Linked DNA regions of Homo sapiens. The protein of the gene in region 7 purifies or fractionates together with the protein of the main gene of each other region. This does not show direct contact. Each region holds a gene or a part of one and is shown on either strand. Other genes may lie near its edges.

What was found.
Region 1: the proteins of CPSF4 (region 7) and TTYH1 purify together in Homo sapiens (affinity purification with mass spectrometry; one large-scale study listed by BioGRID and IntAct). This does not show direct contact.
Region 2: the proteins of CPSF4 (region 7) and AHCYL2 purify together in Homo sapiens (affinity purification with mass spectrometry; one large-scale study listed by BioGRID and IntAct). This does not show direct contact.
Region 3: the proteins of CPSF4 (region 7) and WRAP73 purify together in Homo sapiens (co-immunoprecipitation; one study listed by IntAct). This does not show direct contact.
Region 4: the proteins of CPSF4 (region 7) and TUT1 purify together in Homo sapiens (pull-down; one study listed by IntAct). This does not show direct contact.
Region 5: the proteins of CPSF4 (region 7) and SMYD2 purify together in Homo sapiens (affinity purification with mass spectrometry; 2 studies listed by BioGRID and IntAct, with this or other methods). This does not show direct contact.
Region 6: the proteins of CPSF4 (region 7) and P4HA2 purify together in Homo sapiens (co-immunoprecipitation; 3 studies listed by BioGRID and IntAct, with this or other methods). This does not show direct contact.

What each region holds. Positions count from the first base shown.
Region 1 is NC_000019.10:54,414,116-54,418,263, reverse strand, and holds the start of TTYH1 (protein tweety homolog 1), read right to left. Parts: upstream 2,801-4,148; 5' UTR 2,712-2,800; coding exon 2,586-2,711; intron 1,163-2,585; exon of another isoform or gene 1,129-1,162; coding exon of another isoform or gene 1-1,128. Other genes in the region: LIM domain-containing protein A-like, read right to left, coding at 1-1,128. UniProt on the Homo sapiens protein: Calcium-independent, swelling-dependent volume-regulated anion channel (VRAC-swell) which plays a pivotal role in the process of regulatory volume decrease (RVD) in the brain through the efflux of anions like chloride and organic osmolytes like glutamate.
Region 2 is NC_000007.14:129,406,530-129,410,029, reverse strand, and holds part of AHCYL2 (adenosylhomocysteinase 3), read right to left. Parts: intron 555-3,500; coding exon 484-554; intron 173-483; exon of another isoform or gene 1-172. UniProt on the Homo sapiens protein: May regulate the electrogenic sodium/bicarbonate cotransporter SLC4A4 activity and Mg(2+)-sensitivity. On the contrary of its homolog AHCYL1, does not regulate ITPR1 sensitivity to inositol 1,4,5-trisphosphate.
Region 3 is NC_000001.11:3,640,104-3,643,603, forward strand, and holds part of WRAP73 (WD repeat-containing protein WRAP73), read right to left. Parts: intron 1-3,500.
Region 4 is NC_000011.10:62,578,038-62,581,523, forward strand, and holds part of TUT1 (speckle targeted PIP5K1A-regulated poly(A) polymerase), read right to left. Parts: coding exon 3,349-3,486; intron 3,170-3,348; coding exon 3,069-3,169; intron 994-3,068; coding exon 524-993; intron 1-523. UniProt on the Homo sapiens protein: Poly(A) polymerase that creates the 3'-poly(A) tail of specific pre-mRNAs. Localizes to nuclear speckles together with PIP5K1A and mediates polyadenylation of a select set of mRNAs, such as HMOX1.
Region 5 is NC_000001.11:214,287,659-214,291,158, reverse strand, and holds part of SMYD2 (N-lysine methyltransferase SMYD2), read right to left. Parts: intron 1-3,500. UniProt on the Homo sapiens protein: Protein-lysine N-methyltransferase that methylates both histones and non-histone proteins, including p53/TP53 and RB1. Specifically trimethylates histone H3 'Lys-4' (H3K4me3) in vivo. The activity requires interaction with HSP90alpha.
Region 6 is NC_000005.10:132,210,854-132,214,353, forward strand, and holds part of P4HA2 (prolyl 4-hydroxylase subunit alpha-2 isoform 2 precursor), read right to left. Parts: intron 3,201-3,500; coding exon 3,063-3,200; intron 1-3,062. UniProt on the Homo sapiens protein: Catalyzes the post-translational formation of 4-hydroxyproline in -Xaa-Pro-Gly- sequences in collagens and other proteins.
Region 7 is NC_000007.14:99,445,443-99,448,942, reverse strand, and holds part of CPSF4 (cleavage and polyadenylation specificity factor subunit 4), read right to left. Parts: intron 823-3,500; coding exon 670-822; intron 1-669. UniProt on the Homo sapiens protein: Component of the cleavage and polyadenylation specificity factor (CPSF) complex that play a key role in pre-mRNA 3'-end formation, recognizing the AAUAAA signal sequence and interacting with poly(A) polymerase and other factors to bring about cleavage and poly(A) addition.

The DNA.
Region 1 (4,148 bases), on a different chromosome or scaffold from region 7:
GTTCTGCGGTGGGCAGAGCCTTGCAGAATAACAGGGCTCTCCACGTGGCGGGGATTTCACAGCTGACCTGTGCGGTCCCAGAGGCCCACAGTGGCCCAGGGGGTTTGCACTGAGCCCCGGAGCATGGAGGGACAACATTGGGATCAGAGTCACACCTCTGGACTTGCCAAGGCTGTTTCCCCTAAACCACGGTGTTTCTGCCTTTGTCCACACACATACACACACACAGTGGCACAGTGTGTGTGTGTGTGTGTGTCCCAAGTGTGTGCAGTGTTTGTGTTTCTGGTTGAGACTGGATGTTTTTATCTTTGGGCTGTCTCCATGAGATGAGGGGGCACCTGAGTGTGTCTCCTGGGTGCACTGCTGTCTGCAAATGAGAACATCTGTGGGCATTTGTGTGTTCTGGGCACAGTTCCTTGGGCCTGTGAGTGGGTCCGGTTGTGTGTGTGTAACAGTGTGGATGAGTGTGTGTGTGGATGCGTGACTGCATGTGAGTGTGTGTGTGCACATGAATGCTATAGTCAATATGTGTGTGCATGTGTGTGTAGATGTGAATGGAATGTACGTGTGTGTGTGTATGGGAGTATAAACGTGTATGTGACGGTGCATGCATGAGTGTGTAAGCATATATATATAAGTGCAGTGTGTGCTTGTATATGGGAGTAAATGCTTATACATGTGTATGTGTGTGTTGTGAGTCACTGTGCGCAATGTGCGTGTGCATATGTGTGATTGTGTATGTGTAAGTGGGTATATCCATGTGAGTGTATGCATGTGTCTATATGCGTGTGTTGTATGTGGGTGTGAGTGCATAGCGGGAGTAGTAAATGGGTATGTGTGTGTGCATATGTGAGTGTGTAATGAGAGTAGGTGGGCGTGTGTGTGTACCTGTGCATATGTGTGTGTGCATGTGTGTAATGAAAGTAAGTGGGCGTGTCTGAGTGTGTGCATGTGAGTGTGCATGTGAGTGTGTAATGGGAGTAAGTGGGTGTGTCTGAGTGTGCCTGTGCATATGTGTGTGCATGTGAGTGTGTTGGAATAAGTGGGCGTGTCTGGGTGTGCCTGTGCATATGTGTGTGCATGTGAGTGTGTAATGGGAGTAAGTGGACGTGTGTGTGTGCTGTGCATATGCCAGTGAGTGTGTGCGTGTGGCTGTGTGCCTCCCCCGGGCCAGTGTCCCTGAGGCCCTGGCTGTGTCTGCAGCTGTACCCACGGTGGTCGCGTCCCTGCAGGGGTCCCCCTTGCCCTCCTCGGCTGTGGGGCTCTGCCCGCGCATCCCTGCCACCCTGACCCTGACCCCCGACCGTGGGGGCGGAGTGAGGCTCCCCCAAACCCGTGCCTCTGGCGGTGACTGGGGCCGCGGATCCCCGCGTGCGGCTTCGGGAGGTCTCCGGGCCAGAGCGGGCGTGAGTCTGGGCCGAGGCCGGAGCCGGTGGAGCGGCGTTGTTGGAGGTGGCCGTTGTGTAACCGCGAGGCTGTGGGCGAGGGGACGGCGGTCCCCGTGTGTGGGGAGAGGGGGCGGCGAGGAGCAGGCGGGGAAGAGCTGCTCAGGGCTGTGCCAGCCGTGACCCAAATAGCTCAGAACACAGCACTCATCCCCTCCGCGCTTTTCTGGGACCCCCTCCACGCCCCCTGAGCTCTCCAATCCCAGCCCCCTTCTCCCAGGAGCAACCCAAGACGGAGCCCAGGGGCTCAGGCCCCATCAGCAGGGCCAGGACCCGTCCTGGGGCCACATCGGGACTCCCAGCACCCCCACCCGTCCCCAGCTCAGCCAAGCCTTTCTCCTCATTAATCTCGAAGTCAAGGACTTGAATTAAACTGGGTCAGGGGACAGCTCTTTCGCCCATTGGAGCTGCCCCGAGCCGGGCCCCTTCCCCAGGGACACCGGCTTCTGTGAGGTTCCCACACCGGCCCCACCCTCGGGACCCGGGTCTGTCATCCCGAGGCTCCCCAAACCCAGCCTCATCTCGGCCCTCACCCCTGCAGCGCCCTGACCACCCCTTCTTTCTTGGGACGGGCAAGAAGCTTCCTCTCCCAGAGCCCCTTCATTTTCCAGCCCTGGTCCTCAGCCCCTGAAGCCCCCTTCCCCATTTCAGACTCTCAATCCCATCCCAGCACCGCAGCAGCCAGCGTTTTCCCCGCCACCGTTATCAGGTCCGCTGTCTCCTGGGTCCCACCTTATCTGGGACATATTCACCTGCTCTGATCCTGTGGGGCAGGGTCATCTTTTAGGGCAGGAAGAGTAGACCTACCCTCCCGATGACCCTGGAGGCCGGCTTCCCAGGCAGGTATCAGACACCCGGGAATCCGGGCCCCCCTCCCCTCCTCTCCATGAACTCAGGGGTGCAGGTCCCCAGCCTTCCCTTATTTAGAGAGCTCGAGGTCTGGACCCCCAGCGCGCGTCCCAGGAGAACCTCCAGGCATGGGCGCCCCCAGGCTCCTCCTCCCTCCGAAACCCCAAAGTCCGGGCCGGCCCCCAGCCTCCGGCGGAGCTCAGGAAATCTGTGACCCAGCCCCCTTCTCCCTCGGGACCCAGGAGCTCCGGCCCCCAGCCCTGGCCCCCAGGCCCTGGCGCCCGGTCCCACCTGCTGGTATTCCTGCTCTTGGGGCGCGAAAACGCTGGGCACCGGGCGGAGCTGGAAGTCGGCGCGGGGCAGCTGGTGGAGGAGATGCACCCAAGCTGAGGGCCGGTAGCCCGGGGGCGCCCCCATGGCCCCCGGGGGAGGGGGCAGCGGGGCGGACGCCGGGGCTGCGGGAGCCTCCGGAGTCGAGCGGGGCGCGGGCGGCGCGGGGTCTGGCTGGGCTCAGGGGAGCGGGAGCGGGGGGGAGGCAGGGGGTGGGGGGCGGAGATTGGGGGGAGGGAGGCGCGGGCCGGGCGGGGACGGTGCTGCCCCTGGTGGTCGCGGCGGGGACTGCGGGAGTCGGGAGGCCCCCAGCGCTCCGCGCCCCACCCCGGTCGCGGCTCCCACCTGCTGCCCGCGCAGGTACCGCGCTGCTGGCGTCGGCGGCATCCGGACAGCTGGCTTGCATCGCGATTGAAATCAGCCCTCCTTGTCCATACGAGGCCACTCATACTGTTATTTCACCTAAAACATAATGATCCCTTTATCCTTATGGAGAAACTTCATGTCTGTGTAAAGGTTGCTAGTAAGTACAGAGCGTTTTACAAAGAACGGCCAATTCCATGGATAAGAAGTCCTCTGTGTACGAAAGTGCTCCCACCTGTAAAAGATGCCCGTATTTGTGTAAAATCTCCGTCCCACTTTTATTCCTAGCCTGCATAAGGACACAGCTTCTAAGCACAAACACTCCTATGTGTAGAGGCTACTCCAGAATGTATGGAAAAATCCACACGCCTGTGTAGCAAGCCTTCATGCTGCATAAGGACCCCTTCTACCTGCATAAGGACCCTGGTCATCTATATAGGGGCCCTTCCCATCCTGTAAACTGACTCGGGATTACTTCGGTGTATACAAGGACCCCTGCCCCTTGGCATTCGCCATACAGTTACAGAGTATTTTTCCAGCCACTCCCCATGTTACATCTCACTGGAATCCTCCGATGCCACACCGATAGATGGGGAAGTGCCAACCCTGGGAGGGGACCTGGCCACCCTGACATCATCACCCAGACTGTCACTATTGCAGCCAAAACTAGGTGCTCAGGAATCTGGCCCCAGGGGTCCCCTCTTGCTGTAGGGCAGGGTGAGACTTTGCCATCTGGAAACCACACACGTGGCCTCTCTTGTGGGAATTGGGATGAGTGGAAGAAAGGGAGATTAGTTCTCCACTTAACCCATTTCCATATTTTGCTCCAGATTGGCAAGAAAGGGCTAGGGAAAAGAGGAATGCTGGTGGTAGCGGAGGTGGTGGTGATGACGATGATGGTGGTGATTATGTTGGTGATATGATGTCATGATGATGGTGATGGTGGTGATGGTGATGATGATGGTGGTGGTGGTGTTGATGATGGTGATGGTGATGATGATGATGATGGTGAAGACATGATTATGTTGACATGTCATGATGATAATTATGATGATGATGGTGGTGGTGATGGTGGTGACGGTGGTGATGATGGTGATGGTGGTGATGATGTTGGTGATGGTGATGGTGGTGGCGATGGTGGTGGTGGTGATGGTGGTGATG
Region 2 (3,500 bases), about 30 Mb from region 7:
TTGCAGTCAAGCAGAATGTACCTCCTGCAGAGACAAATCTTCTGCATGAGATTACTGATGCTTCACTTGCACTCTAAGCTGGAATCCAAACTCTGGTTTGTCTCTTGAAAATTTGACTCTATAAAACTGATCTGATTTTCTGTTTTTAAAAATAAATATATTTTTGGAAAAAAAAAATATCTGGCTTCCCAAATAAAACTTTATAAGTGAATCTCATCTCTAGCTATCTCCTAGGATGAATGGAGATATAACAGTTGTCTTCAAGGGTGAAGAGAAACATTTTTACATAGGAATAACCTAATCGTATACCTTTGGTCGGAGCTCTAAAGAATTAGGAAGAATGTGAAAGACTGGCTGGCTTTGTGGGCTACTATCTCTCTCTAGCTTTTAGAGTTTGGTTTTTCAGAATATTTCCAATCATCTTGCACCTGCTCCATAAAAACATTCCCAAGTGCCACCCCATTTAAAATGTCATTATCATACCTGTACAGGTAATAACAATGTCCACTTGTCGGATGACCTCATTTAATTTCACCAGTCGAAATCCATCCATACTGTTGAAATAAAGCATGACCCATTAACCTAAACAGGCAGCTGGGGAGCCTTTTAACACAGGACTTCAAAAGCTAATATCAAGTTGCTGTCATTTCTTGAGATAGCTGAACTATTCTTAGAAGTGAAAAATCCAAACAATTTCCTTAGTTCATACAAGACAGAAATAAAAGGTTCGTTTGCATCACGGAACTTATTTCTTCCTGATAATAGGGAGCCAGGGGCTACCATGAGATTCCCTGACCAAATTTCTAGAAACTGTAGAAAGTGCCACTTAGCCATTTAACCAACTACCCCATTGAAACTGCTCTCTCCAAGATCATCAGTGATCCCCCGAAGGCCAAACCCAAGATTTCTTAGACTCTTAACTGTGTGTGTTTTTTTTTTTTTAGAGATGGGATCTCACTATGCTGCCCAGGCTGGAGTGCAGTAGCTAGTCACAGGCATAATCATAGTGCACTACAGCCTCTAACTCTTGGCCTCAAGCAATCCTCCTGCCTCAGCCTCCTGAGTAGCCAGGACTATTGGCATACACCACCATGCCCAACTTCTTAGACTCTTATATTATTTGATTTCTTCTACTACATTAAACATTATTTGCCTTCTTAAAACTCTATACCCCTTGGACTCCATGATACATCTCTCCTGGTTTTCCTCTTACTTCTCTTAATTGCCTCTCCTCAACTTCAGCCAACCTTTGGATATTGGTGCTCTGCAGGGTTATGCCTTTATTCTTTTCTCTATTCTTTCAGTATAGAGAACCATACTCTTCCTTTGGCTGCAAATGACTGCTGATAGATGGCTGATTTTTACATTTGTAACTTTAGCTTAGATCTCTCTGAAGCTTCATAGCCAAGGATCAAATTAGCCACTGGATAGCACCTCATCAATGTCCCAGAAGGATCTCAAACTTACTGTGTTTGAAAATAAACTTATTATTTTCTCTGCACCCATAATCTCATCTATTTCTTCTTCTATATTTTCTATCTTGATCAATAGCATCACTGTTCATCCAACTGAATGAGCCATATAAACAAGAATGTCCTTGCTGCCTCTCCTGAATTGAAGTTGTCACCAAATCTGGGTGACTCTTTTTCTTTAATTCCATAAACGTCTCTTTCATCTCTCTACTCTTCTCTAATACATACTGGCCTTGCTTAAGTTTAGGTCTTATTACTTCTTGCCTAGATTACTATAGTAACCCCTGGCCCAATCTCATTGCCTCTAGGTTTACATCTTTCTAAATCATTTGGCAGAGTGATTTTCCTAAATGCAATTTGGATCATGTCGCTTCCTTTCCTTAAAATACTTCAGTGAGACTGCCTGTTCTTAAGGATAAGACAGGATAAGAGTAAGACCCAAATACTTACAGTGATATGTGATTATATTGACATATGACTCCCATGACTCCTACCTTAGATAGTACCACTCCCCCAAATGTATTTCATCTGCCAACTACATTAAAATATTTCTAGCTTCTTAAATCTGCCATGCTATCTCCTTCCTTGGAGACAACACACATGTTCCCAGTACCTGGAATATACTTCCAAACTAAGAAAACACCTATACAAATGTCAAGACTCAGCTCTGCTGACATCTCTTTCTACCCTGCTCCCTTGCTCTTCAGTAAGCAATTTCTCCTTTATGCTCCTACAGAAGCATGTGCCGTTTAACTCCATGACAGCACTTACTTTGCTGCACAGTGGTTATCTGTCTGTGTGCTTCTAAAAGCAGGACCTTATCTCATTTATATATTCATCTTATTCATTCTCAGCACATAGCACAGTATCTAATGCATAGTAAGTGATCAATTCGTGTCTACAGGATAATCTGAACAGGATAATCTGAACTGTTCAGTATCTGAACAGTATCAATTTGTATTAAAATATGTTCAGGTTCCTAAACTCTTAGTGTACCAGAAGGATGATGGTTCCCCTAGGCTACAGACACTTGGACTCTGCAATAGTTTTTAAGAACAGTGGTATTTCCCACCCTGCTGAGGATGGCAAGAGACAATTTTAATAACAGCTATTATTTAATGAGCATATATTATGTGGCAGCAGCTCTGTACCTTATATAATTATGTATTTGTTATATAATGTATAATATAGAATAATAATTATTTTGAGACATGGTCTTGCTGGGTCACCCAGGCTGGAGCGTAGTGGCATAATCACAACTCACTGCAGCCTCCACCTCCCAGGCTTAGGTGATACTCATACTTCAGCCTCCCAAGTAGCTGGGACCACAGGCATGCACCACCACACCCAGCTAATTTAAAAAAATTATTTGTAGAGATGGGGTCTCCCTATGTTGCCAAGGCTGGTCTCGAACTCCTGGGCGCAAGCAATCCTCCTGCCTCAGCCTCCCAAAGTGCTGGGATTACAGGCATGAACCCATTACACCCAGCCTATGCTAATTATTATTTTACTGAACTCTCACAATCCTATGAGGTAGGTATGATTACACACATTTTATAGATAAGAAAAGTTTTAACTTTTAATTTTAGAATCATTTCAAACTTAAGAATTATAATACTAGTGTAAATAATTCTCATATATGCTTCACTCAGAGTTAGTAGATTTTACCCTTAACTGGGATTGGTCTAATGTTTCCTCACAATTAGATTCAGGTTATACATTTTTGGGAGGAATACCACAGAAGGGCTATTTTCAGTGTAACACATCAGAAGGCATCTGATGCCTGCCAATTTCTTTTCTGATCATTATTTGAAAGGCAAGTATCATACATGGAGAAGGTAAGGGGCTACCTGTTCTCTGGCTGACAGAATCCCTGTTACTATCTCCACAGGATTTCTAAATTTTCGCTTTTCTGATAGTCTCTGCTCTCTCCAAGCAGAGCTCCTTGACCTTTTTAAAAGACAGATGCTTAGAGTTAGTGGCAGCATCTCTGAGGATCTGGGCTCCTCTAAAATAAAGTGTGGCATC
Region 3 (3,500 bases), on a different chromosome or scaffold from region 7:
AACACACAGGTAGTGGATCAACGAGCTCCAGGGGTCACGTGGCAGCACGGAAGGGCTCCTGTGCTGATGCTGAACCCGAAACACACTGGCCGTTCTGGGGACCATGCCTCGGAACTCCAGCTGCACAGAGCACTTGCTCCTCTAACAGCTCCACAAGCTGAGGCCAAGGAGGGCGCTGGGGCCTGAGCGAGGAAGCGTGCTACTTCCCACCAGCGTGTCTGAGGCTGAAACCTTGCCCAAGCCTCTCAGACTCAGCAGGGTGGGTGCAGCGCCTGAGGCTCTGAGCATCAGCAGGGCGGGGTGGAGCGCCCGAGCATCTCAGCATCAGCAGGGCGGGGTGGAGCGCCCGAGGCTCTGAGCATCAGCAGGGCAGGGTGGAACACCCGAGGCTCTGAGCATCAGCAGGGCGGGGTGCAGCGCCCGAGGCTCTGAGCATCAGCAGGGCGGGGTGCAGCGCCCGAGGCTCTGAGCATCAGCAGGGCAGGGTGGAACGCCCCAGGCTCTGAGCGTCAGCAGGGCGGGGTGGAGCGCCCGAGGCTCTGAGCATCAGCAGGGCAGGGTGGAGCGCCCGAGCATCTCAGCATCAGCAGGGCAGGGTGCAGCAACGGAGCATCTCAGCATCAGCAGGGCGGGGTGGAGCACCCAAGCATCTCAGCATCAGCAGGGCGGGGTGCAGCGCCCGAGCCTCTCAGCATCAGGAGAGTCCATGTGCCACCCAGGGCAGAGACCTGCCCTCCAGAGCCTACTGCAGAGTCACAGGAGAAAAGCACATCTCCCACCTGTGGCCCTGCATCCCTGTGGGGTGCGCCTGGCCGAGGCTCCCCACTCAGGCACATCTTAGGAAACACAGGGAGCACTTTAAGCCTGATTTTTACCTTCATCTCACAAAAACAAAGAAACAAAAACCTTTAAAAGATAACTTTGCAACTTTTAAAAACCCAATAAGAAAAAAAGGTAGTTAAATATACACCTTCATCAGCGCTGTTACCTTCCACTGACCACTGGAGAAGCCAGCGGAGGAGACCCGTGGGATGGGCTCCACAGCACTCAGCAGCAGGAAGAAAGGACCAGAGGGATCCACATGACCCAGAGCACTCAGGAGGGAAGGAAGGGGCCGCTGATCCACGCTACGACCCAGTGTGCTGAAGACGGAAGGAACGGGCCACCGATCCACACCACAACTCAGCATGCTCAGGGTGAGAGGAATGGGCCACGGATCCAAGCCATGACCCAGTACACTCAAGACGGGAGGAACAGGCCACTGATCCATGCCACGACCCAGCACTCTCTCCACACCATGACCCAGCACTCTCAAGATGGAGGAACGGGCCACTGATCCACCCCACAACCCAGCACACTCAAAACCAGCAAGATGCCAGGGAAAAGGAAGCAGACGCACAGCTCCACGCACCATGGCTCTGTGCAGATGGGATTCCGAGTAGGCAGTGCTGCTCGCCCCGCAGCAGGCACCGGCTGCCGGACACAGGTGGGAGACGGACTGAGCACAAGGGGCACGAGGAGCCCCATGCCACGGGCGAACAGTCTTGGTCCTGATTGTGGCGGCAATGACGTGCAAAGTGACTCACTCAACTGTGCTCTTAAAGTGGGTGAATTCTCTTGCTTATAAATTGTTTTAATTGCCTTTATTCAGATATAAGAAAAAGTCTGCAGTCTGGATATATTTTTAAAGCTAACTATAGACTATTTACAACATACACACTCAAGTTTAAGGATGCAGAAATGTAGAAGGTAAAAGGATAGAAAAAGACATATCAAGAAAATCCTAACCAAGAGAAAGGTGGCACTGCCGCATTCGTACGGGATAAATCAGACTCTGAAACAAAAAGAACCGTGAGACATAAAGAGGAATACTTTACAACAAAAGGCCTGTGCCACCGCGGAATCATGGGAACCGCTTCACTAGGAAATCTGTTTACAAACAGTTAAAAGTTTGTATGCAGCTAACAACAAAGTCTCAAAAATACATTTAAAAATCTGGCAGAGCCGGGCGCACTGTTGTGCACCTGTAATGCCAGCTATACAGGAGGCTGGGAAGGAAGGATTGCGTGAGTTTAGGAGCTCGAGACCAGCCTGGGAAACAAAGGGAGACCCCAACTCTACAAAAAAATTGTTTTTAAAAAATCTGACAGACTACAAGAGCAATGAAGAGGAATCAGTCCCATCAGATATTCAAACACACCATAGAACCTCAATAATGTAGACAGTGTGGTGCTGGCACATAGGTGGACCAACAGTGGACTGGAATGGAAACCAGAAGTGATCCTGCAGGTATAATGGAACTGAGCTCCTGCTATAGCTGGTGAAGATAGCCTTCTAAATAAATGCTGCTGGGAGCTGGGCACGGTGGCTCACACCTGTAATCCCAGCACTTTGGGAGGCCGAGGCAGGCAGATCAACTGAGGTCGAGAGTTTGAGACCAGCCTGACCAACATGAGAAACCCCATCTCTACTAAAAATACAAAATTAGCCAGGCGTGGTGGCGCATGCCTGTAATCCCAGCTACTCGGGAGGCTGAGGCAGGAAAATCGCTTGAACCTGGGAGGCGTAGGTTGCGGTGAGCTTGGATCACACCATTGCACTACAGCCTGGGGGACAAGAGCGAAACTCCATCTCAAAAAAAAAAAAAAAAAAATGCTGCTGGGAAAAGGTAGAAATGGATTCAGACCCCACAGTGTGCCCCACTACGTGAACCTGCTTCATTTAAATGGAGCATGTGTGAGCGTCTGTGTGTAATGAAACAAGATAGGAAAGCACTCAACCTCACCGAGAATTAGGGAAACGCAAACTAAATCCAAACTGCAGTATCATTTAGTCGCCTGGATGGAATCATTGTAATCCTGCCACAAAAGCCTTGGCAAATGAAACCCCTCCGTCTGCTACGGCCAAGCAAGGCTCTCCTAGAGAGGCTCTCCGGGTATGTGCCCAGGAGACGGGGACAACACGTTCACAGCCACACCGTCCGTGGTGACGCACACGTCCAGCAGGCGAGGACTGAATGGCGTTCCTCACGAGGAAGGGAAGGCCCAGCGATGCCTGTCAACACGGAGGAGTCTAAAAGCAGTGACGGGGAACAGCAACAGCAGAGACTGCAAAGTACAAGCCCCTATAAATCAACTTTACACTGCACAGCAAGCAATGTGGTGTTTAGACACATCTGTACAGTGAGACTCAAGAACAGTGAGGATGTGATTCACGCAAGACGTGGGGCAAAGGTGCCCTCAGGTGGGGAGGGCATTGCTACGAGGAAGAGAAGGGCTCTGAAAGCGCGGCAGTGTTCCGCTGCAGGCCTAGGGGTGAGCCGCTTTTGATGACTCACTGAACCTCGTCTAATGGGCGCAAGCTTGCCTTTTCACGTTAAAATGCAAGAGGCAGGGACGTCTCCCATGCTCCACAGCACCCTCACGTGGGGTGGCGCCTTCGCAAGTGGACTCAGCGGCCCCACTAACCCCCGAAATGGGGTCGCGCCTTCGGAAGGGGAC
Region 4 (3,486 bases), on a different chromosome or scaffold from region 7:
GCAACAAGAGTAAATCTCCGTCTCACAAAAAAAAAAAAAAAAAAAAAAAAGTAGTATTCTAAGGAACACACTTTACAAACACTGAAATGGAAGCCAGGCAGGAGGAGATAAGGGACAGAAAGAGGGATGGTCCCAAACAAGGACAAACTTGAGACTTGGCAGGTGCAGGAGTTTCCCAAGCCAGACTCTCCTGGCCCATCCCAGAATTCTCAGCTGGCCTGCCCCAAAGAAAGGTATGGTGCCTCACGCCTGTAGTCCCCGCACTTTGGGAGGCCGAGGCAGGTGATCACCTGAGGTCGGGAGTTCAAGACCAGCCTGACCAACATGGAGAAACCCCGTCTCTACTAAAAATACAAAATTAGCCAGGCGTGGTGGCGCATGCCTGTAATCCCAGCTACTTGGGAGGCTGAGGCAGGAGAATCACTTCAACCTGGGAGGCAGAGGTTGCAGAGAGCCAAGATGGCACCACTGTACTCCAGCCTGGGCAACGAGTGAAATGTCGTCTCAAAAAAAAGAAAGGTACCGGTTACTGAGGGAGACATCACCGTGGAGACCTGAAGGCCGATGACAGAACTTGACCACAGGGCGCCGGGCAGAGGGCACAGTTTGGACTCGATACACCCCAGGGACACAGCCCCGGAGAATGGATCCCACCAGCTCCAGCATTGCTGCCCCCTCTGCTTTCTCCTCCTTTGGGGTCTCTGCTAGTTCCGAGGCCTTCCCCAGGTCCCCCTCTTCCCTGTCCTCTAGCAGTGGTGAAGCTGGAGGCAGAGACTGGGGAGAAGCAAGGGTCTCGGAGGCCAAGGCAGAGTCCGGAGTTTGGGGCGCCAGGGAGGAGGAAGGGGTTTCAAAGTCCAGGGCTTCAGAATCCTGGGGAGAAGCAGGAGGTTGTGAATCTGGAGGGGAAGCTGGGGTGCAGGCCAGGGCTTGAGGGTCCAGTGGGGAAGCCAGGGCCGAGTCCAGCGATGGAGATTCTGGAGCCTTTGGGACTGGCTGTGGACAGAAATGAACTGAGTGAAATGTTTCTGCTGTTCCCTAAGCAGGGATCTCTCAAGATAATATTACTTCCAGCTTATTCAGCTCTATTCTAAGGTCTTTATACATATTAACTCATTTAATCTTCACAGGAACCCTTTTTTTTTTTAAAGATAACCTTTTAATTCTATAAAATAAAAGGTCTACCTCTGCAAAAAATGTCATTGTCGTGAAAGACAAAAACAGAGGAACTATTACAGACGAAAGAGAAACTGTAACAGTCCATTGACAGGACAGCTGACCAAATTAGAGTATGGACTGTAAAGTCTGTAAAGGTTTACATCTGTGTCAATGTAACATTTCCTCAACTTGATAATGGTACTGTGGTTATACACTAGAATACCTTTACACTAGAATACCTTTGTTCTTGCATAACACACATTGAAGTATTGAGGGGTAAAGGAATGTGATACATGCAACCTTCTCTCAGATGATTCAGAAAATATAAATAGAGAGTGTGTGTGTGTAGAGAAAGATAAAAATAATGATAAAACATTTTAAAACTCCTGTTGCGGGGGCAGCAGGCATATAGAAACTACTTTCTGCTCACTTTTGCTGTGAATCTAACACTGCTCTAAAAAATAAAGTCCATTTTTTTTTTTTTTTTTTTGAGATGGAGTCTCAATCTGTCATCCAGGCTGGAGTGCAGTGGCGCGATCTCGGCTCACTGCAACCTCCGCCTCCTGGGTTCAAGCTGTCTCTCCTGCCTCAGCCTCCTGAGTAGCTGGGATTACAGGTACGTGCCACCATACCCGGCTGATTTTTGTATTTTTAGTAGAGACAGCATTTCACCATGTTGGCCAGGCTGGTCTCAAACTCCTGACCTCAGGTGATCCACCTGCCTTGCCTCCCAAAGTGCTGGCATTACACAGGCGTGAACCACCGCGCCCGGCCAAGTCTATTTTTTGAAAATAATAATAGGCTGGGCATGGGGGCTTAAACCTGTAATCCCAACAATTTGGGAGAATGAGGCAGGAGGATTCCTTGAGCCCAGGAGTTCGAGACCAGCCTGGGAAACATAGTGAGACCCTATTTCTAAGTAATAATAATAATCCTTTCCTAAACAGAATCTGTACATTAGATGTTAGAAAATACAGGTTAAGTGGCCGGGCATGGTAGCTCATTCCTGTAATCCCAGCACTTTGGGAGGCCAAGGTGGGTGGATCACTTGAGGCCAGGAGTCCAAGACCAGTCTGGCCTACATGAAGAAATCCCATCTCTACTAAAAATACAAAAAATTAGCCAGGCATGGTGGCGTGTGCCTGTATTCCGAGCTACTTGGGAGGCTGAGGCACGAGAATCACTTGAACCCAGGAGGTGGAGGTTGCAGTGAGCCGAGATCACAGCACTGTACTCCATTTTGGGTGACAGAGTTAGACGGTCTCTCAAAAAAAAAAAATACACATAAGCAAAACTAAAAGGACCTTATTGTATAATTTTAAATATATTTTTTCCAAAATAAGATCATATTGCACACACCATTTTGAAATTTTTTTTTTGTTATGACTGCCAGGTATCCATGTCAATTCTTTTTTTTTTTTTTTTTTTTTTGAGGAGTCTCCCTCTGTCACCCAGGCTGGAGTGTAGTGGCACAATCTCGGCTCACTGCAACCTCTGCCTCCCGGGTTCAAGTGATTCTCCTGCCTCGGCCTCCCAAGTAGCTGGGACTACAGGTGTACACCACACACCCAGCTAATTTTTGTATTTTTTTTTTAGTAGAGATGGGGGTTTCACTATATGTTGGCCAGGCTGGTCTTGAACTCCTGACCTCAGGTGATCCACCCACCTCAGCCTCCCAAAGTGCTGGGATTACAGGCGCGAGCCACTGCGCCTGGCCCTGTCAGTTCATTTTCATCCTATCTAATACTCATCCATATTCACATCTCTCCAATTACAATAAACTCTTTCAGGTAGGTCCTATTATCTGCATTGTAGATGAGGAACTAAGACATGGAGAGCTAAAGGACTTGCCCACAGTCACATGGCCATTCTCATGGACTTTTCCCAGCTGCCTCCCTGGGACACTCACTCACCTGGGGCTCTTCCAAGTCACCCAGATCCAAGAAGAGGTCAAGATCACAGCCATGGACATCGAAGCTATTTATGGAAGAGCCAAAAGGGTGGACCACACAGCCTGGGTGCCGAGCAGAGAAGAAAGGTCAAGAGAAGTTAGGGAGGAGCAGGGGGAAGAACAAAACAGAGCACAAAGATGGAAGAGCAACCAAACACCTCTAGCGGAGGAAGGACTGGGGATACAGACACAGGAGAGCAAAGGCCAGGGAGGGCTCAGACATAGTAGGGGAGGTAACTTACCAGGGAAGAACTCTGTGAAGACCTCCTGCATCAGGGCCACCACTAGGCTGCGAAGCTGCCGCTCGGCCTCGGACAACTCCCTCAGCCCCACAAGCTTTATCATTTGTGCCCCCACGTCTGCAGCCTCAGCTAGCGCTT
Region 5 (3,500 bases), on a different chromosome or scaffold from region 7:
AGTTGTTTTCCAGAACTATAGAACCCACTAAGTGTCCACAAATACAAATGTTTTTGATTGAGTTAAAAAGTAGAATTCCTACCCTTAGGGAGTATACTATTGGCTCATAATTAAATGTGTCTTATTGGTGAGGTTTTAAGAGCATATGAGGCTATCACTGTGAACAGCAACTGTCACTGTACCATGGATTCACGGAATTGACAGAGAAGAGATTTTTCAGGTGGCAAATGAGCAAATGTTTCCTATCCAAACATCACCAGAGTAAGAAAAATCCCCATCTCATCAAAAATATGAGCCAGTACCTACATCCCTGAAGAGTCTTTCTTGGTACTCAGATTAAACAGAACACAGATTTCAACATAACTCCTTCCAAGTGCCAAGACATAAAATCCTTGAGCTTTTTATTTGGCTCTAATAAAAACCTGTATCTTTTTGGACAGCCAGATTATCTTACCACGTCCCTCCCCCAAGATACATTCAGGTCTTCAAGCCCTGTGTGAATTTCACTTCTCTAGGGAGTTGTCCTTGTTTCTCCTCTCCTCCATGGTGACTCCGCGTCCCCTGGGCACCAACACACCCTGAGCATCACAGTGCACTCACTAAGACACAACAGTGTCTTTGTTATTATAGCACGCATTCATTTTTATCTCTAGGGACTATAAACTTGCCAAAGATAAGCACTTATGAATTCTCAGATCCACTTTTTCTATAAAAGCTAACCCAATCCATTTTAATAACATACATACAATATTTCCACTTAGTCATCCGAAACCTTCCACTTCATGTACAAGAGTCGCTAGATTTTATGTTAATAAATTAACACAAGGAGTTCCACGCTATTTTTAAATTTTTGATTGAAAAAGAATCTGAGAGACACAGCTGGATTCTCAGCGAATGTACGGACTAGAAAGATAAGTTGTTTCCTGAACCTTCAAGACTTTTTTGTATTATTTTCCTGCTAAATTGCATATTTCTGTCCTTCAGAGAAGTCTTGAAGAGATCTGATTTCCTTCTGTTCTATTGTGTTGGTGTGAACGCCTTTGCAATTGAATAGGAAGCCGCGGAGGGTGGCAGGAACAAGTCAGCAGAAGTTACACAAAGTGAGGTGTGTGCTTTGTGACTGGTTAGAGCTCTAATGAGGCCAAGGTCATGGGTTCAACCCCTGAAAAGGCAGGTACTTCAGTTAATTCCCTGCCAAAGGACTGCACCCCTAAACTACTGCAGATTTCCTAGAAATCCAAAGAAGTGAAGGTTGGGGATGTGGGTGGGCTAACAATGCAAGTTCCTGAGAGGCAAAGGAGACCTCAAAATGCCCTGCCTCCCTCAAGTGTCAGAACAGGCCACTCATCAGGAGGAAGGGGCCAGTGCAGGGGCCCCTGCCCTGACACAGCCACAGAAAAACGCTGAGTGAGCAGGAGGATCAGAAGAGAGCTCAAGGTCTGAATCTGCCAAGTAAAATCAGGGTGCCTTGTTCTAGGTGTGTCTAGTTCCCTAGTGATCATCAGGACACACATACACATGTATTCAAAGATACGTAACCAAACCCATAGAGGAGCTGTCTGTGAGAAGAGCAGGAAATGAGAGGGAACATTCTGAAAAATCAAATTTGCCTTGCATATACCAGATAAAAGCATGCCTTGAACTCAGAAGTATGATTACCTCAACTACATCTGAGGTCCAAAAAAAGATGTGTGTGGATGGGGGGAGTCAATTTAATTATTCATGACTCCAGGAAGACAAAGCATGCTTTTAATTATTGATTGCTTCCTTCGAGGACAGAAATAAAGTGGCATAAAACAGTAATTATTTCATATTTTTATACTGACAGGGAAAAGAGGAGGGAATATTAACCTAAGTTCAAAGCAGTAAGCCTAAAACACCCAAATACAGTAGAAACTTCCTTTGCAATTCTCTCACTATATCAAATCCTAAAAGAGACAATTTTGCTGTCCTGAATTCTCACCAATTCTGAGTTCTCCCAAAGACCAGGTTCCTGCCAAACTATAGCAGTGAGCCCTGGATCTTCTCAAAGAAATTTAACATATTTTTACAAGAACCTTCTCACAGGTGGTGTGCAACTTGCCTGTTCTACAGGAATACCAACCAGGGGCTGCCTCCTATAGCTGCACCATAAATTCCATTTCCACAACTCAAGAGATTTAACTTCTGCAGAGAGAGATCCTGAAGAATGGATTTGCTTAAGGAAAAAAAAAAAAAAAAGACTATGGGCTGATGCTGCCCTATCACACGGCACAGAAACAAACTCTTTATATGTAGGTATAAAGGCTGAGATGACTAACTCTGGTTTAGTCCTAGCGTAATATTAAAAATATTCCAAGCCTACAAAAGGACCAAAGCCTCATGTTCTTTTTATGTTTTATTACATAATAATTCATACATATAAAAGAATATGTGTAGCTCTTATGCAAATTTCAAAGCATTATAATAAAAACAACATGTTTAAGTCCATATCAGCATAAAATATAGATCTAAGATGGCTGAATCAAACATTTTTTAAAACTTTAAATAATTCTTTAAACAATGCATTCGTTTGTTAAATTGTTGGCCAATTATAAATTCTATTCAATCAAGGAGATATCAGAGACGGATTAAGCCCCCAGTCTCCAGGGAACCACACAGTAGTAATGTAGGGTGAAGTCCCTGGGTGAACCACACAGTAGGTTCAGGCCAAAGGGGGGCACAGGAAGATCACACGAGGAACAGGGAGATTTGGCTCCATCCTTGAAGGTCATGGAGTCCGGCCTTTAAGAGGCACTCAATAAATATTTGACAAAAAAGGTGTGAAATTCAGAGAAACCACTTAACTTCTCTAACACTCAGTTTCTTTCTATGTAAAATGGAATAAGGCCCTGTGTATACCAGCCATCCTTGGAAGGATCAAAATAAGAATGTATCTGGAAATGCTTTATGGGCTGCAAAGAGCAATATGATTTAAAGAAATGCCATTTTATACAGGTTCTTCGAATTTTTTTTGATTGAGAGGATTCTGTGCAATTGCTTCGGGAGGGAAAGGTGTTAGATGGTGGTTTTAACTCACCAGGGTTTGAATTTCACTTCAGGATATCCTGCTGTTATTCTGTCTCTTTCATCTGAAATCGGTTCCAAACGTGCAGCTTGGTCACTGAGCCCCTATAAGCTATAACAGAAATTATGTTCCCCGCATATGAAAAATAACGTGAGTTACTGGCACATTTGAAGTCTTAAAGGATGGCTCCTTGCTGCTGTTGAAACAATTGTGCTGAAAGTAAAAGGCAGAAGGAACCCTGATATCCTTGCAATGTGGAAAATTCTGTTTTCTTCCATTTCTCTCTATAAATATTTGTTTTTTCTTATTAAAAGAATATTAAAGTGCCTAAGACTTTGGAGTGAGAAAAGGCTCTTTTTTGAAGAAGGTTTACCTGTGTAGGTATATTATATTATTTCCATTAGGTTTTGAAAAATACTGAAAACTAATCCCAGACCCCATCATTAATTCTGGG
Region 6 (3,500 bases), on a different chromosome or scaffold from region 7:
AGATGTCTGGTGGGCAGTTTGCCATATGAGTCTAGAGGATGGAAAAATTAGCTGAATATAAAAAACATAAATTTAGGTGGCAACCAAGCCATGGGTGAGGAAAATAGCTTGCAGGAACTCTGAGGAAAGAATGGAGAAGATGACTAAGGCCAGAGCTCCAGGGAGCACCTACCCAGAAAGAACAGACAATGAATAACCCTGAGAATGAACTAAAGATAGGAGAAACAGAGGGAGCGGGAGTGGTGTGAGAGACACCAAGGGAGGCCAAGAGCCAAGGTTGCAGTGCCAGCTTTGGCTGTTAAGTGGCAGGGACCTTGCTGAGTATCAGTTCAGTGGGTCTTATGACCAAAGGTCATCTGCTGTAGAGGGAGTGCTGGAAAGTGACCATGAAGATAGTTTCAAGCCAATATGAAGAAGCAGCTATAGGGAGATGCAGGATTTAGGGTGAGCTCAAGATGGGAAAGACTATGTGTGTGGTTCCTCAGAGAATAATGAGAAAGCAGATACCATGGAGGGGAAGTGGGGGCTGTGACTCTCCCTGGAAAGCAAGGAAGACTCCCCACAGCCCCATTAACAGCAACCTGGGCATGGCTGACACAAAAGAACTCAGAGAAGGCTCTTTCTGCCTGGAATGAAACCACTACACAGTAGGCTAAATGCTTCAGAGACCAGGGTCTGCTAACCCCGGTGGCTCAGGAACCAATAACGAGGAATAGGAAGTTGGGGACAGTAAACACAAGATGAAGTCCCTAGGTAGGCCAGGGACTGGGGGGCTCCTGGAGCCCCTTTTCCTTCTCCACAGGTCTCCTCTGGCTCTGCAGGCCCAGGAACCTACATTGCTGGGGCAGAGTAACATAGCTGACTGAGCTGGGGCTCTGGAGCTGAACTAAACTAGGTTTGTGTTGGCCTCACTAGGGCGCCAACCAGCTGTGTGACTATAGACAAGTTACCATATCTAAGTCTCAGTCCCCTTATCTCTAAATAAAGATAATATCATCAATTTTAAAGAGCTTGTGGCAAGAATTCAATAAGATGACATATGAAGATGTCTCCTATGCTCCCCAGGATGCTAATGACCAGTAGCTATTATCAACATGTCTCCCAGATGCCAAGAATGCTAAGAATGGCTCCCTGGCACTCAGCATCCTCCCCAGAGCCAACTCGAATGTCTACTCCCTGGAGAGCATTTGGGAGAGTGACAGCTGAGCTGAGTGCTGATAGGCAATCAGACATGGAGTAGCCTAGCTGACATGGGTAAAGGTATTCCTATAGAGGGGTTGAGACAAAAGAGCTGAGTGATAGGGAAAGCTGAGTACAATGGGCAAGGAAGCCAGGAAAATGGAGTCATGCAGGACCCCAAAGACCACACACAGGAGGAGTTTGGGTTTAGCTTTGGAAATTAAGCACAGTAATCAGGAACTCATGTGAACAAATGTGTGCTTAAGACCACATGGAGGATGGTCTTAAGCAGTAAGCTGGAGGTAGGAGACAAGTCAGAATGGTATTTTGATAATCAAATTGAGAAAAAAGTAGCTGTGAGGCTGGAGTCAGGGGATAAGCACGGAAGACATGAGAGAAGGAGGTAGAATCCATAGGCCTTAGGCTTCTGGCTTAGGCAGCCAGAGGATGGAGGTCCTTTTTGCTGAGATAGAAGGATGAGGGGGAAGGTAAAGTGTTTACAAGGAGATGAGGATTTCAGTTCAGGACACATGAAGTTCGAGAAGTCCATGGGACATTCAAGTACAGATGTCCCAAAGGCATCCGTCTACACTGGTTAGAAGCTCGGGAGACAAGCCTTGGCAAGAAACACAGATCTGGATGTCATCCACCTCAGGTGATGGAAATGGCTGTGCTCACCTGGGGAAGGTGCTCAGGGAGAAGATGAGGTAAGGATGGAGTCCTAGGGAGTAATTCCTTTCTGCCCCATAACCCTATTCAGGACACTCATGGGTTTGCTGAGTGAACGTGAGAGGTCAACGCCAGGGTATGGTTCCCTCCTCCAAGCAACCAATCTCAAGGCTACAGAGTGAACAGATCTTGCAGGTGCCCTGAACTGCCCTCTCTCTAATGGAGTCTAAAGGGGGCAGCTGAGGTTCTGGAGCTGGAATAAGCTGGGTCTGCATGAGCCTCACACAGTGAATCGCTGGGGTTACTTGTCTCCAGCAGCCCTCAAAACATCTTCTTATAAACACTAACACTGGGAAGTCAGTGGGAGAGGGGCCACTTGAGAGAAAATGACCAGAGAGGCTAAAAGAGAAGCAGATATCAGTATGCCAGAATTCAAAGGAGGAGAGAACATCACAAAGAATGAGGCAATCTATCTGTCAAATGCTGCTGGGAAGTTAAAGAACATTATGTGTGAACCTTGTTCGCTGGGTTTACCAGCCAAGCGGCCACTGATGACCTTGTAAGAACAGCATCAGTGACAGTGGGGAAAAAGGCCAGATACTGTGAGTTCAGGAGTATATGGGAACCAGGAAAATGGACAGAGTGTAGATTACTCTATCCAGTAGCCTAACCAGGAGGGGAGAAGAGATGAATCAGCAGCAAAGACTCGAAAGACTCTCAGATACCGAGGGAGGCAAGTGTTAAGATGAGCAAGAATAGAGCCTATATGGGAGCTCAAGGGTAGAACCCAGAGAGGTGGAGACAGAATGTATAGGAGCAGAGACTGTAACTAAGAGGACTCAAGACAGGGGGATAGTAAGCCCAGATCAGCCTTAGATGAAAAGACATTGGAGGGTGGGAGACAAGAAGCAGGTCTGAATGCAGATCTGTGTGGTGCTCTGGGGACAGACGTGGAGGGGGTTCCTGAGCAGCAACTTTGGCTTTCTCTGAGATGCAAGAGGAGAGGGCCTTGGCTAATACATGGAGGGAGGTGGCAGGGCAGGGGCTGAGGGAGAAACCTGTCATGGGAGAGGGAGTCCAGCACAAACTGGTGAGCCAAGAGGTGCACCAGAGGTGCACCCGAGGTTAAAGGCCACAAGTTGGTGGTGGCTCCAACCTGTCCCGCCACTAAAGAGACACATGCGGGACAGGCAACGCCTGGAGTGGTGAGTTACCTGGAAGTTCCCCTCTGGAAATTGTGCCTGGGTCCAGCCTGTATGTGTCCTGAAGTCTCATCAGGGCTTTGGCAGCTCCTATCTCGTCCTCATCAGTGGGGAAGAACTGCCGCTGCACAGAGAGGTTGGCGATAAAACCTTCCAAATGAGAGTCAGAACAAGAGATTACCCTTGATCCAGGGGCAGAATTCCACTTGGGACCAGAGAGGCAGCCACAAAGAGGGTCTCTGGCTAGTGAAATTTCCCCGCCCCCTCCCTCAAAGGCTGTTGCCCCCTTCCACCAGGAAGTTGTCCCTGATGACTCCAGTCTATGGGGACTTTTCCTTTCTTACTCCTCACCATACCTACTGCCTGTGTTGCTCTTTGGAACTAAGTAGAAGCAGCCCCCCATATTGGTTAATATTTAGGAGTCCAGAAGTCTTGGCTCCAAATCATTCA
Region 7 (3,500 bases):
TCAGGACAGCTGAGGCCACGCATTCTCTAAGCAGGGCTCAAGGCAAGTTTGTTGCTACCAGAAGACACATCTGAGGCTGTTATTTTGAAGGGCTATTTAGGATGGCTGAGATGTCACCAGGATCATGGCTCCTGGAGAGAAGGAACCAGCTCGGGCCTGAGAGGCAATGCCCACGCTGGAGGGAGAAGTGGGTTTCAGGGAGAAGGTGGACGTGGACAGAAACCAACCACGGACATAATGCAGCCAGCTGCACAACTCGCTGCTTCCGGGTCACCCTCGTTAGCCTCAAATCCGAGTGATTGAAAGAGCTCCAAACACTGAAGCACTCCAAAGTGATGCGCGGGGCCAGGCGTGGTGGCTCACGCCTGTAATCCCAGCACTTTGGGAGGCTGAGGCAGGCAGATCACTCGAGCCCAGGAGTTCAAGACCAGTATGTGAAACATAGCGAGACCCTATGTCTTTAAAAAAAAAAAAAAAAAAAAAGAGATGAGCAGAAAATAGCCACACTGTCCCCTAAAAGCTGGCTGAGGCTGGCAGGTTCTGCCAGAGTTCTCCTCTGAGAATAGAAAGATGGGAAAAGCAGGCAGAGACAGTGTGGGCACTGAGCAGCCAGCGGACCCCTCTGCACCCTGGTTCTCAGCAGAGCCTCCAGGGCTCCAGGCGCCTTACCGAACTTGGAGTAGAAGTAGCACTCGGGCATCTTGGTCATGTCATACTCATGCAGGAACTCACACTGGTCCCCTTTCTTGCATAGGCCACGCAGCCAGTGTTTGCACACAACTGTCTTCTCACCACTGATGTGGCGAAACGGACACATGCCCCCTGCCGGCAAGATAGGGACAGGGTGTCAGCAGAGAGGCCACCCTGAGCCTGGGGGACACGGCCTGAAGAAGCTGAGGTACCTTCACTTCCTAACTCCTGGAGCCACCTGAAGGCATCACGTCCTGGAAAGGGGCAGAGGTCCCCCTCACAGAAGGCAACATGATTTGAGGTACTACACTGACAGACATTTTACATTTTAATAGTTACTCATGGCCGGGCGCAGTGGATCACGCTGGTAATCCCAGCACTTTGGAAGGCCGAGGTGGGCGGATCACAAGGTCAGGAGATCGAGACCATCCTGGCTGGCACGGAGACCATCCTGGCTGTCACGGTGAAATCCTGTCTCTTCTAAAAATACAAAAAATTAGCCGCGCATGGTGGCTGGCGCCTATAGTCCCAGCTACTCGGGAGGCTGAGGCAGGACAACAGCGTGAACCCGGGAGGCGGAGCTTGCAGTGAGCAGAGATCGCGCCACTGCACACCAGCCTGGGCAACAGAGCAAGACACCTTTTCAAAAAAAAAAAAAAAAAAGTTACTCATGATCTCACAGATATTACTGTAAGATGGAGGAATTAAAAGGGGGGAGGTGCTGGGAGGCTGAGGTGGGTAGATCACGAGGTCAGGAGTTCGAGACCAGCCTGGCTGACATGGTGAAACCCCATCTCTACTAAAAGTACAAAAAAAATTAGCCCGGCTTGCGGGTGGGTGCCTGTAATCCCAGCTACTTGGGAGGCTGAGGCTGGAGAATCGCTTGAACCCAGGAGGCGGAGGTTGCAGTGACCGGAGATCACGCCATTGCACTCCAGCCTGGATGACAAGAACAAAACTCTGTCTCAAAAAAAAAAAAAAGAAAAAAAAAAAGAAAGGAACTTGGCCGGGTGTAGGAGCTCAAATCTATGATCCTAGCACTTTGGAAGGCCAAGACAGGAGAATCACTTGAGCCAAGAAGTTCGAGATCAGCCTGAGATCTTGTCTTCACTACATAAATAAATAAGTAAGTAAGTAAGTAAGCCAGCCAAGCAAGCTTGGGGACCAGGCACAGTGGCTCACACCTGCAATCGCAGTAGTTTGGGAGGCCAAGGCAGGTGCATCACCTGAGGTCAGGAGTTCGAGACCAGCCTGGCCAACATAATGAAACCCTGTCTCTACTAAAAATACAAAAAATTAGCTGGGCGTGGTGGTGTGCACCTGTAATCCCAGCTACTCAGGAGGCTGAGGCAGGAGAATTGCTTGAACCCAGGAGGCAGAAGTTGCAGTGAACCAAGATGACACCACTGCACTCCAGCCTGGGCAACAAGAGCAAAACTCCGTTAAAAAAAAAAAAAAAAAAAAAAAAAAAAAAAAAAAAAGCTGGGTATGGTGGTGTACACCTGTAGTCCTGGCTACTGAGGAGGCTGAGGTGGGAGGATCACTTGGGCCCAGGAGGTCAAGCTTGCAGTCAGCTATGACTGTGCCACTGCACTCCAGCCTGGGTGACAGAGTAAGATGCTGCCTCTTTTTTAAAAAAAAAAAAAAAGGAAAGACCAATTTCAGAATTGAGGAAATGTGATGTATACACATGGAGGGACGTGTCCCTTCTGGGACAGGACCTGATGGGACAGAGCCAGCCTCTGGGGATGTGTGAGACTTCTAACGGGTGGCCTGGCAAGACCACCATGGAGGTCCGACCAGAATGAGGCCGCTGTACACTTCTGCTGTCCAATATGGCAGCTGCTAGCCCCATGTGACTACTGAGCACTTGAAATATGACTAGTGTGTCTGAGAATTTTGTTTTAAATGTGATTTGATTTTACTTAAATTTGAACTGCCACATGTGACTAGTGGCTACTGTATTAGTCAACAGAGAGACAGAATGCCCTGTGTTAGGGATGGCTGTGCTAACAGAAGGTGGCTGGTCAGAAGGGCAGAATTACTGAGCAAAGACATGGGAATGAGACCAGAAACTCAGTGGAGGTAATGACGTTCTGACTGGACAGTGTGAAGGTGGCCTGGCTGATCTGCCAGAAAGTCTCCTACCTCAGTGGTAAATGACTACGTTATAGAAGCAAAACTCACCAAAACCATTCATTAAAACCAGCCCTTTGCTCTGATTCTCTGCTCTCTTTTTCAAGCTTCTGATTAATATTTAAGTCTCCTAAATAAATTTTCCTACAGGGAGAAAAATGCCCAGACCATGGAAAGTTTAGGTTGTACCTAGTGATACTTCTTTCTTTCTTTTTTTTTTGTTTTGTTTTGTTAAGACAGAGTCTCACTCTGTTACCTAGGCTGGAGTGCAGTGGTGCGATCTTGGCTCACTACAACCTCTGCCTAACAGGTTCAAGTGATTCTCCTGCCTCAGCCTCCCCAGTAGCTGGGATTACAGACGGGCGTCACCATGCCCAGCTAATTTTTGAATTTTTAGTAGAGACGATGTTTCACCATGTTGGCCAGGCTGGTCTCAAACTCCTGACCTCAGGTGATCCATCCACCTCGGCCTCCCAAAGTGCTGGGATTACAGGCGTAAGCCACCACGCCTGACCCCTAGTGATACTTCTGATGGATTAGCCCGGCCCACATACAATTATTAAAAGAGCACAGCCAGAGGGGTAACAAGATGGCGACCAAGACAGTGGAGCTCCATAAGCTGAAGCTTGCTGAACTAAAGTAAGAATGAATGTCTTGCTCGTGGTTTGGAGACG